Linked DNA regions of Homo sapiens. The protein of the gene in region 1 interacts with the protein of each later gene in a biochemical or structural test. Each region holds a gene or a part of one and is shown on either strand. Other genes may lie near its edges. The genes, in order: LIMK2, ROCK1 and NF1.

Region 1 (3,752 bases):
GAATGTTGGGTTTCTTCCCCAATATTTTATTTTGAAAAAAAATTCAAATATATAGAAAAGTTGAAAATGTAGTTCAAAGAACACCTACATACCTTTCACATAGATTCATGATTTGTTAATGTTATGCCACTTTGTATATATCTCTCTCCCTCTATCTGTATACTTTTATTTATTTATTTTTGCTGAACTATTTCAGAGTAACTTAAAGGCATCTTGATTTTACCCTTGAACAGTTCAATATGTTTCTGCTAAGAATTCTCCTATATAAGTCAGATATCATTACATCTAAGAAAATTCACGGCAATTTTACAATATAATATTATAGTCCAAATCCATATTTCCTCAGTTGTTCCAAAAAATGTTCATGGCTGTTTCCTTTTTTAATCTAAATTTGAATCCAAGTTTGAGGCATTGTATTTGGTTGCTGTGTCTCTAGGGTTTTTAAAATCTGTGCCTTTTCTTCTCCCCATGACTTTTTAGAAGAGTCAAGACCGGTTATTCTTATAGAATAACCCACATTCTAGATTTGCCTGATTAGTTTTTTTATACTTAACGTATTTTTGGCAAGAACATTACATTGGTAACGCTGTTGGTGATGGGTCAGTTTTGAAGAGTGGAGATGATTAAACTGCTTTTGTTCATTGAAGTATCTGTCAAGACCAGAGATCCTTAACTGGTGCCATAAATAGGTTTCAGAGAATCCTTTATATATACACCCTGTCCCCCACCTAAATTATATACACATCTTCTTTATATATTCATTTTTCTAGGGGAGGCTTCTTGGCTTTTATCAAATTCTCAGAGGGCCCCAAGACCCAAAGAGGTTATGAAACACTAGTCTGTCCACTGAGGCAGGCAACACAGAGCTGGTTTCTGGGGCCTTGTTCAGTCTGAACCAGCTTCCCTTGGGGAGATAGCACAAGGCTGTAACTTTGCCCCATCTTGGCTTTGGATCAAAGAGGACTGTCCATTTTGTTGTCATACCTAGGAACCAGGGACAGCTTATGTGGCCTGGTTCCAGGGATCCAGGAGAATTTCAGTTCTTGTCTTGCCTTTCAGGTGTTCAGAATGCCAGGATTCCCTCACCAACTGGTACTATGAGAAGGATGGGAAGCTCTACTGCCCCAAGGACTACTGGGGGAAGTTTGGGGAGTTCTGTCATGGGTGCTCCCTGCTGATGACAGGGCCTTTTATGGTGAGTGAATCCCTTCATATCTGCCCCTCTTGGTCTTCAGAGTCCATTGACAGTGCTTCCAGTTCCCTGTGGCCTGTTAATCTTTTAGTCTTTCCATCAGCCAGGGCATCTCCCTTTATTTATTCATTCATTCAACTAGCAGGTATCAATTGAGCACCTACTAAGTGAAAGGTAAGATCCTTCCCTCAAAGACTTAATAGTTGAACGTTGGGAGTGGGAGGAGAGGCAGGCAGAGAGGAGACACAATATAGTTGGATAAGGACCTCCAAGGAGAGTGTTACAGGCTGAGAGGAGGATATACTTAGGTTGTCTTTAGGGAATCAGAAAAGGAGACTCTGGAATAGGCTGGCAGAGAGAGGGGCTACCTCCTATACCTGCTCTGGACAAACGACTTTAAGCATAGTGACAGACTTGCCAACCCTGTATTGGAAGAACTGATCTTTTTTAGTGGGGATGATTACTTCTGGGGATTTCTTCTCATAACTGAGACCAAAACAGTTTTGTGCAGTCTCAGAAATGACAGGAGGTACCAATCTGACACTTCCTTTGGAAGCTCTAGGGCAGAGAGTGAAAGAGTGGATTTTGACGGGGGCCTTGCTTGGAGGTCATTCACCCACCCCTGTCCTCACTCCAGCAACAGTGATAACTCACTTCCTTCCTCCCTTTGTACACCCTTCTCCCCACCTGCTCACAGGTGGCTGGGGAGTTCAAGTACCACCCAGAGTGCTTTGCCTGTATGAGCTGCAAGGTGATCATTGAGGATGGGGATGCATATGCACTGGTGCAGCATGCCACCCTCTACTGGTAAGATAGTGGTCCTTTGTCTATCCTCTCCCATATAAGAGTGGCTGGCGGGGAGGGACAGTGGCAGGGTGAGTTGGGCAGAAGGAGTGTTAGGGTAGTCAGAGCATTGGATTCTTACCACAGCAGTGCTCTTAACCAGCTCTTTAACTTGTAAGCAGAATGATTTACACATGTCTCTACCCTTTTTCCTTACCAACCTTGAAAATGTCTTCACTCTGCCCTGCAATCCTCCCAGTGGGAGGCACTCTTCAAGGACGATCCCAGAACATTAAAGTCAAAGACCCCTTAGAGCTCACCCTGTCCAACCACCTTGGTTGATAAAAGAAGTCAGCCTGGGGCCCATGGAATAGAATAGTACAAGGGCAAGGTTCTCATTGTGAGTCAAAGGTAGAGTGAAGAGAACCCAGACCATCTCACCCCAACCCAGGCCAGTGTTTTTCCAAATATACCACTTGCTGCAGATCTAGCTCAGCACCCCCAGTCCCAGCCCACCCTGAGAACCCAGGCTCCTCATTCTGAGCAGCCAGCTAGAATCATGACAAAGAGGGTGGTAGTGAGACTATGGGTACTGTTGCTTAAAGCCACATGGTGCAGTGGTTGCTGGGGGGCTTCTGTGTGGGACTCTAGCATCTTATTCCCCCCTGTGCCCTCTCCCCAGTGGGAAGTGCCACAATGAGGTGGTGCTGGCACCCATGTTTGAGAGACTCTCCACAGAGTCTGTTCAGGAGCAGCTGCCCTACTCTGTCACGCTCATCTCCATGCCGGCCACCACTGAAGGCAGGCGGGGCTTCTCCGTGTCCGTGGAGAGTGCCTGCTCCAACTACGCCACCACTGTGCAAGTGAAAGAGTAAGTATTTTGAGAACCCTTCAGCAGGGGTTCTTGAGCAGAGTCTGTAAATGGGCCTCAGAGGGCTTAGACCTCCAAAGTCTCATGCAGAACTCCCTTTATTCTCATCTCATATCTTTCTCCTGGACCCCACTATGCTGTAACCGTACCTGGGCCTTGGCACTTACTGTTCTCTCTGCCCAGGCTACTTCCTACCCGATACTTAAGGCAAGAATCACTCACCTTTCAGGTGTCAGGTTTCAGGTCATGTTTGCTCTTTGAAATCATCTGGCTTGATTATGTGTATTAGTTGTTTATCTTCTATCCCCTCCACTAGAATGTAAATTCCAGAAGAAACTTGCTGTCTTATTCAGTGCTGCATGCCCAGGGCTTGGAAGAGTACCTGGCATATAGTAGGAGTTGATTGATTATTATTTTGTCAGTCGAGAGAATGAATGGAGAAAATGTGGTCCATGGCCCAAAAGAAGTTAAGACCCTATCCTAGATTCAGGCCAGAGACCAGATGGAGAAAGAGTCTGTGTCTATCTAATACCAGTAATGTCGTACCTCTGGCCGCTTACCATGTAAATATTGATTGTGTATCTACCATGTGTTGGACACTAGGCTAGTGCTTGCACAGCAGGTGAAAGATACTAGAGTTTGGGAAGTCAGGAGGAGCTAAGGTCTGTTCTACAACCTTATTAGATGAAGAGGAGAGGGAATTGTGTTCAGGGCAGAGGGAGAAGCATTTCTCCAAAAGTAGGAGTCTTAATCATGTCTGATGTAGGTTGAGTGTGGCCAGAAAAGGGGCTGTTAAGTATAGAGGGCCTGGATTATGAAAATCCAGCAGATCCATTGAGAGTTTAAGCAGCAAGGTGTTGTGACCAAGTTAACATTTTAGAAGGATCACTGGTATGGAGGTTGGAT
Region 2 (3,752 bases), on another chromosome or scaffold:
TGAAGAAGATGAATCTGGTGTGTGGAAGATGGGTTAGCATGGGAAAAGATTGGAGAGACAGTGAGATTGGACAGTTTTTTAAAATTGTTATTATTGTAATAGTCCAGAAATGATTGAAGCCCAAAATTGGGGCATGAGAATGAGAAAAGAAGAATTAATGGAACTTTATTGGCAGGGAAAAGATGGGGAACCAAAGAGAGAGGCAATAGTCAGATGACTCTAAAGAGGTTGAGCCTGGATTATAGGGAGAATGGTAAAAATAGCAAAGTCAGGTTTGGAAATTGCTTGTGAAGAATAGGCCTACAGATAAATTCAATTTTAGATTCGTTGTGTTTGAGGGGATAGTGGAGCAATCATGAGAAAATGACCTGTAGACTGTTGGAGATACAGAACTGAGCTCATAATTACAGATAATGATTTAGAAGTCATTTGCACAAAGGTGCAAGTTGATATAATGGTAAAGGGAGAAACAATGGAGGGAAAAATGAGGGTGAAAGATGAAGGTTGAACAAAGAGGAAGAGTGGAGGAGGTAAGCCATCAAGGCCTCCAGAGTTAGGACAGCCAGGTATCATGGAGCCCAACACTTCTAAAACAACATTTTGTTAAAGAGAATAGTCAACAGACAGATTTGGTTGTTTTTTCCCCTTCAAATCTTATAATCTTGTCCTCTTTTTCTGTTTAGTTCCACAGCTGTTTATTGATAGCTGTTACTGAAATTTTATTACCCCGTCAATCTGAACTTGGTAAAGACTGAATTTTCCTTTTTTTTTTTCTGAGATGGAATCTCACTCTGTTGCCCAGGCTGGAGTGCAGTGGCGCGATCTTGGCTCACTGCAACCTCCGACTCCTGGGTTCGAGTGATTCTCCTGCCTCAGCCCCCACGAGTAGTTGGGATTACACGCGTGCACTACCACGCCTGGCTAATTTTTGTAGTTTTAGTAGAGATGGGGTTTCACCATGTTGGCCAGGCTGGTCTTGTACTCCTTACCCCAAGGAATCCGCCTGCCTTGGCCTCCCGAAGTACTGGGATTACAGGCGTGAGCCACCGTGCCTGGCCCAAGACTGAATTTCCTTTAGAGACAAAAAATCCTTTTTCTGGGTTTGTAGTATCTAGCATGAATTTTCTTCGCATGATGTTTTATGTTTAACATTGAGCATTCGTTCGTTCATTCATTCATTGTGTCATTCAGGGTGACCTATCAGGTGACTTCAGCTTTTTCAGTGAGTCTGTTCTTGTTCTTCCCTATCTGGACTTTGGACCTCTCATGTATTATAGGAACAAAACTCCTTTTACATTGGTTGCCTTTTTCTGTTATTTTGACTTTTGTTGATTTGTGTAACTGATACTTACTTATTAGTGTGTATTATGTGCCACGTGCAGTCCTTTAGTTCTAGAGTTGTTTTTGTAATCCCAAAAATAAGGTTTTCAAATTGTTTCTTCTCTACCTCCTTTACTAGATTCATGCTTAGAAATGGAAACTTCCAAATCTTTTGGTTTCAGAAATTTGCTGGTGTATGTCCTTTTAAACTACCTTACCTACTAAACAGCTTTTTTGTTGAGACACTAATGATGAATAGCATCCGTAATCTGAAATTTGAAGTGCTCAAAATCTGAAACTTTTTGAGTGCTGACATGACGCCATAAGTGGAAAATCCACCTGACCTTGTGAGATGGGTTGCAGTCAAAATGCAGTCAGAACTTTGTTTCATGCACAAAATTATTAAAATATTGCAAAAAATAACCTTCAGGTTGTTGTGTATAAGGTATGTATGAGACGTAAATGAATTTCTTATTTAGACTTGGTCCCCATCCCCAGGGTATCTTATGTATATGCAAATATTTTAAAATCTGAAAAAGTCTGCAGTCTGAAACACTTCTAGTTCCAAGCATTTTAAACAAGGGATACTCAACCTGCAGTAGTTTAGAATAATGTAGCTGGAAGAACTCTGATAAGTGGCTATCCAATCTTTTCTCGAACACCTGTAATTTTTTTCAAGAACTAAGTAAGTTCAATCTTCATATCATGTATAAATGCTAAAATAGTCTGCAAATACTAAGATACATTATGATAACCATTCACTTGTTTCCTAGAGCATTCAAATTAGTCAACTTTGGTTTTCTGTAGGTCAGATTCTTTCCAGTGTCCTAATGGTTGTCTTTCTTACTGTCCATGTTACAGTTTATAAGGATTATCGGGAGCTATTTCTCTTTTCCGGACTTCCTTATCTTCTAATTATTTTGTCTAGGGCCTGTAATAATTTCTCAGTGATTTTGAGTACCTTTGAAAACAGAATAAGGGATGGAGTTTAGTTAAGTCTATTTAATCTTTGCAGAGGAAAAAATGCTTATGATTTGTAAATTAAATAGGAAAAACAAGGCCGGGTGCAGTGGCTCGCTCCTGGAGGGCTGAGGCCAGAGAATTGCTTGAGCCTAGGACGGGGAGGTTGCAGTGAGCCGAGATTGTGCCACTGCACTCCAGCCTGGACGACACAGTGAGAACTTGTCTCAAAAAAAAGGAAAAACAAAAATGGTTGGGAGGGTTATAGATACATTTGTTTTGAAGTTTGACATACTTTTCATGAAAATATCTTGCTTGTAGCATATTTATTGGCACATCGCTTCATGATGCCTGTTAAGAACATGACCTTTCCACTTCTCTTCTGGCTGGTGGAGGTGTAGCAACGGGTGAGCGGAGGAGACAGAAGGGAACCAGTATTAGTCAAATAGTGCCTGTTGAGTTCTAACACTGTGCTGTTTGTCACTACTATTTCTTATTAGGGAGTTTTTCAGAATGTGGAAGATAAATGTAAATGAAATTTCTGGTGTTAGTCTTTGAGTTTTTCTTCCTTTAAATTATCTTCCTGGGCTCTCTTGACCTAGTGCTTTCCCATCTTTTCATTCTTCTTTTTTTCTTTTCCTCAATCTTTGGCCTATCATACTTATCTTTGTCTTCACTCTCTTGAAGAATTCATCCATTCTTACAGCTTCAATTATTATTATCTCTATGTACATGATACCCAAATCTTTATTTTTAGTCTTTTGTTTCAAACCTTAAATATCTGACTGCCTTGTAAGCATTTCTACTTGGATGTCATGTTAGTCTCAAATCCCTCATATTCCAAAACAAGCTTCCTCCCATAAACTTATCTGTTTTGTCATTAATTCCACTATTGTCCCTGTCGCTAAACTGAAATTTTTGTTGTGAACTTTTTTGACAGTGTTAGTCCACACATTGGGTTATTACAGCAGATTTTGGGTAGCATTTTCGAATCTGGATTATTGCTGTCTAATCCCCTGTATGCCTTGCCAGTTGAATTGATCTGTTTTGGGGGTATATTACTCTTGGAATGAAAAGACCTGAGGTCATTAAATCTTTGAGCCTTAAAGTTGTATCTCTGCCAGTGTTCCTAGTTTGTGAGTTAATAGGTGTTATTAGTATCAATTGCATATCTGGTTAGTTTGGACCAGACTTTTTTGGATGTTAGTATGTTGCAGGAACTTCTTTTAAAAAAACAAGTTACTCTCCTAATTCATTTTTATTCATTCAGCAAATCTTTGTATAGGGCCTAAACTTGGATTGAAATCTAGGCTCTGACATGTATTTGCTGAAATATTTTAGGGAGTTATTTTAACCTCTCAATGCTGTTTCATCTTCAGAAAAATAAGAGGGGATAAAAGTACTAGATTGTTGTAAGAATTGAATAATATAGTCAAAGCAACTATCATAGCATTTGGTATTTAGTAAGCATT
Region 3 (3,752 bases), on another chromosome or scaffold:
AAAAAAAAATGAAATCTGAGCTGAACATTGAAGGATGGACAGGAATTAGAAAAGCACAAAGGAGGAATTAAAGCATTCAGGCAGAGACTGGCAGAAATAAAGGCCAAGAAGTGGGAAGAAGCATGATACACACAGAAGAGACTGAGGTGACCTGCCTGGAACATAGGTGCATGCAGAGGCATAATGGGAAAGAGTTTGGTAAATCAAGTGGGGTCAGCTCCCAATAGACTGCTGGGTCACAGAGACATGCTGTTAGAATATTAAAATCATCGAATATTTAAACTTGAAAGAATCTAAAAGATTTTCTAGCCATTTCTTTTTCAACAGATGAGGAAATCAAGGATCTATAGGAAAGCTAATGGCTAGGATAGGGACAAAGGCACTGAATAGCAGAACAAAACTAAGACCCCCGCTAAGGAACTCCAATTCAGTAGAAAAGTATTGTGTCTTGGGAACTGGAAGAGATTGGTTTCCGGGGGGAGTGGAACATCACAGTGGCATTACAACTAAGCAATGACCACTATGTTTTGCCAGAAGTAATCACTTTCAAGAAAACAGCAATCAAGCAGAGGCAGGAGCTACTTTTCAGAGTTATAAAGGAAATGGGTGGATAAACAGTAGAGGCGGTGAGTATCTGGCAACAACAACAACAAAAAAGACTGGTCCACAGAGAGAGAGCTGCAGGACCAAGTAAACGTCTGATTTCCAAGAGAAAGGAAATCTTAGCCTGAAAAGTGAAAAGAAAGCAGCCAACATAAAGACTAAATTAGTTCCCAGACAGATAAGGTGGAAAGTGTAAGGGAGTGCAGAGAACTGAGGAACAGCTGGAAGAAATCTTTCTAAAGGATGAATTCCGGGCCGGGCACGGTGGCTCATGCCTGTAATCCCAGCACTTTGGGAAGTCAAGGCAGGTGGATCACGACATCAAGAAATTCAGACCCATCCTGGCTAGCACGGTGAAACCCTGTCTCTACTAAAAATACAAAATTAGCTGGGCGTGGTGGCATGCGCCTGTAGTCCCAGCTACTTGGGAGGCTGAGGCAGGAGAATCGCTTGAACCCAGGAGGCAGACGTTGCAGTGAGCTGAGATCGCGCCACTGCACTCCAGCCTGGGCGACAGAGTGAGACTCCATCTCAAAATAAATAAATAAATAAAAATTTAAAATAACAATAATAATAAATTAAAAAATTCCGAAGCAAAGAATAAGCATTATTGTGCTCGATTCAGCACCACATATACTAAAATTGGAAGAATAAGCATTATTTCTCACTCACCATAAAGAATTCGTCACCATAAAAGAGTACTCATTTTCAACTACTATAAGGCCTTATAAAAATTACACACCAGGCTTGAAGAATGAGGCTAGGAGATATTTTTTAAATCCAAAAAGCTTCAGTTTTGCAAATCTATTTGTCTAATCAGTATGTGGTTTGTAATTTCGAAGATACTTGCCAATCATTTTATACTGTGAATCACTCACCGCATATTCAACGTACATTCAGATGAACACTCAATGTATGAGAACAACAAATATGCTACTACAACCTCTAAAATCAGAGTTTATTCCATAACATATTCTTTAAATTGGGTTTTTTGGCTTTTATGTACTACTTTTGCTTGATCAGATATGGAAAATATAATTGCTTTAAATGAACATATTTACAACAAATCATTTTGGGATGGAGTTCTTTTTAATTCTTTTTTTTTTTTTTTTAGTTCAAATATCCATAGTTTTCCCATACTTCCCTTCAGAAATAAAGCTCTACAGGAACCAGTGGGGCATACAGAACTAGGGGAGATACACAGAAGGTTCTAATTTGCTTAGAAACTGGGTTAATGAACCACAATTAAAAGCTACACATGGCCGGGCGTGGTGGCTCACGCCTGTAATCCCAGCACTTTGGGAGGCCAAGGCAGGTGGATCACCTGAAGCCAGGAGTTGGAGACCAGCCTGGCCAACACGGTGAAACCCCCGTCTCTACTAAAAATACAAAAATTAGGCAGGCGTGGTGGTGGGCGCCTGTAATCCCAGCTACTTGGGAGGCTGAGGCAGGAGAATGGCTTGAACCCAGGAGGCAGAGGTTGCAGTATGCTGAGATCTCCCCATTGCACTCCAGCCTAGGAGACAAGAGCGAAACTCTGTCTCAAAAAAAAAAAAAAAAAAGCTACACACCTACAATTTGTCAGTTTCAATTAGAAACTTGCTATTTGGCACCACGAAGGCAGGTTAAGGAGAGATGTAAGATTTAACTGATAACATTCAGCTTTCTGGCTGTCCACCTGTGCAACTGTCATTTCCCTAACCAAGGAGGTGATTACTTCTAAAATTGGTAATACTCATTCAACTTAGACCCTAAATACTAGGTTTAGCTGCAATATTATCAGGTTAAGGAATTTTATATTACCCACAAGAATGTGAGCTCAAAATGTCAATATGGCACACATCCACTTCTTTTAACTGAGTCTACTGCACTAAGTTGCTAAGCGATACCCATCAGAGTGCAATATGTCTGTAATCAGCAGTGGCTAGAAATGCATTTCTGCTTTAATCACACCGAATATTAGAAATCCAACCAAAACAGCAATCATAAACAGAGTTGCCATCTTTAGACATGCACATGCTCCCTGGGGGCGTTAAGTGGTCCAACAGGCAAACTCTTAGCTGTAATAAGAAGGAAAGCTTAACTCCCCCTGGGCCCAGTAAAGCAAAGTACAGATAATATAATCCAAAATTCAAAAGTTTTATAAACAGTTGAAACTATTAAGATTCTTTTTTTTTTTTTTTTTTTCTGAGATGGAGTCTCGCTCTGTCACCCAGGCTGGAGTGCAGTGGCGCAATCTCGGCTCACCGCAAGCTCCACCTCCCAGGTTCAGGCCATTCTCCTGCCTCAGCCTCCCAAGTAGCTGGGACTACAGGCACCCACCACCACACCCAGCTAATTTTTGTATTTTTAGTAGAGATGGGGTTTCACTGTGTTAGCCAGGATGGTCTCGATCTCCTGACCTCATGATCGGCCCGCCTCGGCCTCCCAAAGTGCTGGGATCACAGGCGTGAGCCGCCGCGCCCGGCCAACTCTTAAGATTCTTATACAACTATCTCTCAGTACATGCAGGGCTTTTTCTCCCCTCAATAAAAATGTAAGCGATGGCTCACGCCTGTAATCTCAGCACTCTACTAAAAATAACAAATGTTATCCAGGAGTGGTGGCAGGCGCCTGTAATCCCAGCCACTTGGGAGGCTGAGGCAGGAGAATCACTTGAACCCAGGAGGCAGAGGTTGCAGTAAGCCAAGGTCGCATCATTGCACTCCAGCCTAGGCAAGAATCATGAAACTCCGTCTCAAAAATAAAAAAAATAAAATAAAGTCTTCTAAATATATTTAATGGATTAGAACAAATTTTATGGGATACTTAGGAAAAGTATCTCCCTGATGGTCAAGCATTCACTACTTTTCATACTGAAGCTCTTATTAGATCTATGTCACTTAACCTTCCCATGCCTCAGTTTTCTGACTAAAAGACATTTTCAACCGTAAGGTGAACTCTAATTTGAATTAAACATTTATCACTTATATAATAAATTAATATATTAATTTATTTTATATATATACTATATATAATATATATAAGTACCTTATGTTAAACACTGAAAACCCTTACATTTTTGTATCTCAAGGTCAGAGACTTTAACTTTCTAAGAGAAAAATGTGAGGAATAGGCCAGGCACAGTGGCTCATGCCTGTAATCCCAGC

Evidence for each region.
Region 2: of the proteins of LIMK2 (region 1) and ROCK1, one has a biochemical effect on the other in vitro, tested with the Homo sapiens proteins (2 studies listed by BioGRID).
Region 3: the proteins of LIMK2 (region 1) and NF1 form a complex in vitro, tested with the Homo sapiens proteins (one study listed by BioGRID).

Annotation. Positions count from the first base shown.
Region 1 is NC_000022.11:31,257,232-31,260,983, forward strand, and holds part of LIMK2 (LIM domain kinase 2), read left to right. Parts: intron 1-1,059; coding exon 1,060-1,195; intron 1,196-1,889; coding exon 1,890-1,999; intron 2,000-2,657; coding exon 2,658-2,846; intron 2,847-3,752. UniProt on the Homo sapiens protein: Serine/threonine-protein kinase that plays an essential role in the regulation of actin filament dynamics. Acts downstream of several Rho family GTPase signal transduction pathways.
Region 2 is NC_000018.10:21,105,078-21,108,829, reverse strand, and holds part of ROCK1 (rho-associated protein kinase 1), read left to right. Parts: intron 1-3,752. UniProt on the Homo sapiens protein: Protein kinase which is a key regulator of the actin cytoskeleton and cell polarity.
Region 3 is NC_000017.11:31,097,972-31,101,723, reverse strand, and holds part of NF1 (neurofibromin), read right to left. Parts: intron 1-3,752. UniProt on the Homo sapiens protein: Stimulates the GTPase activity of Ras. NF1 shows greater affinity for Ras GAP, but lower specific activity. May be a regulator of Ras activity.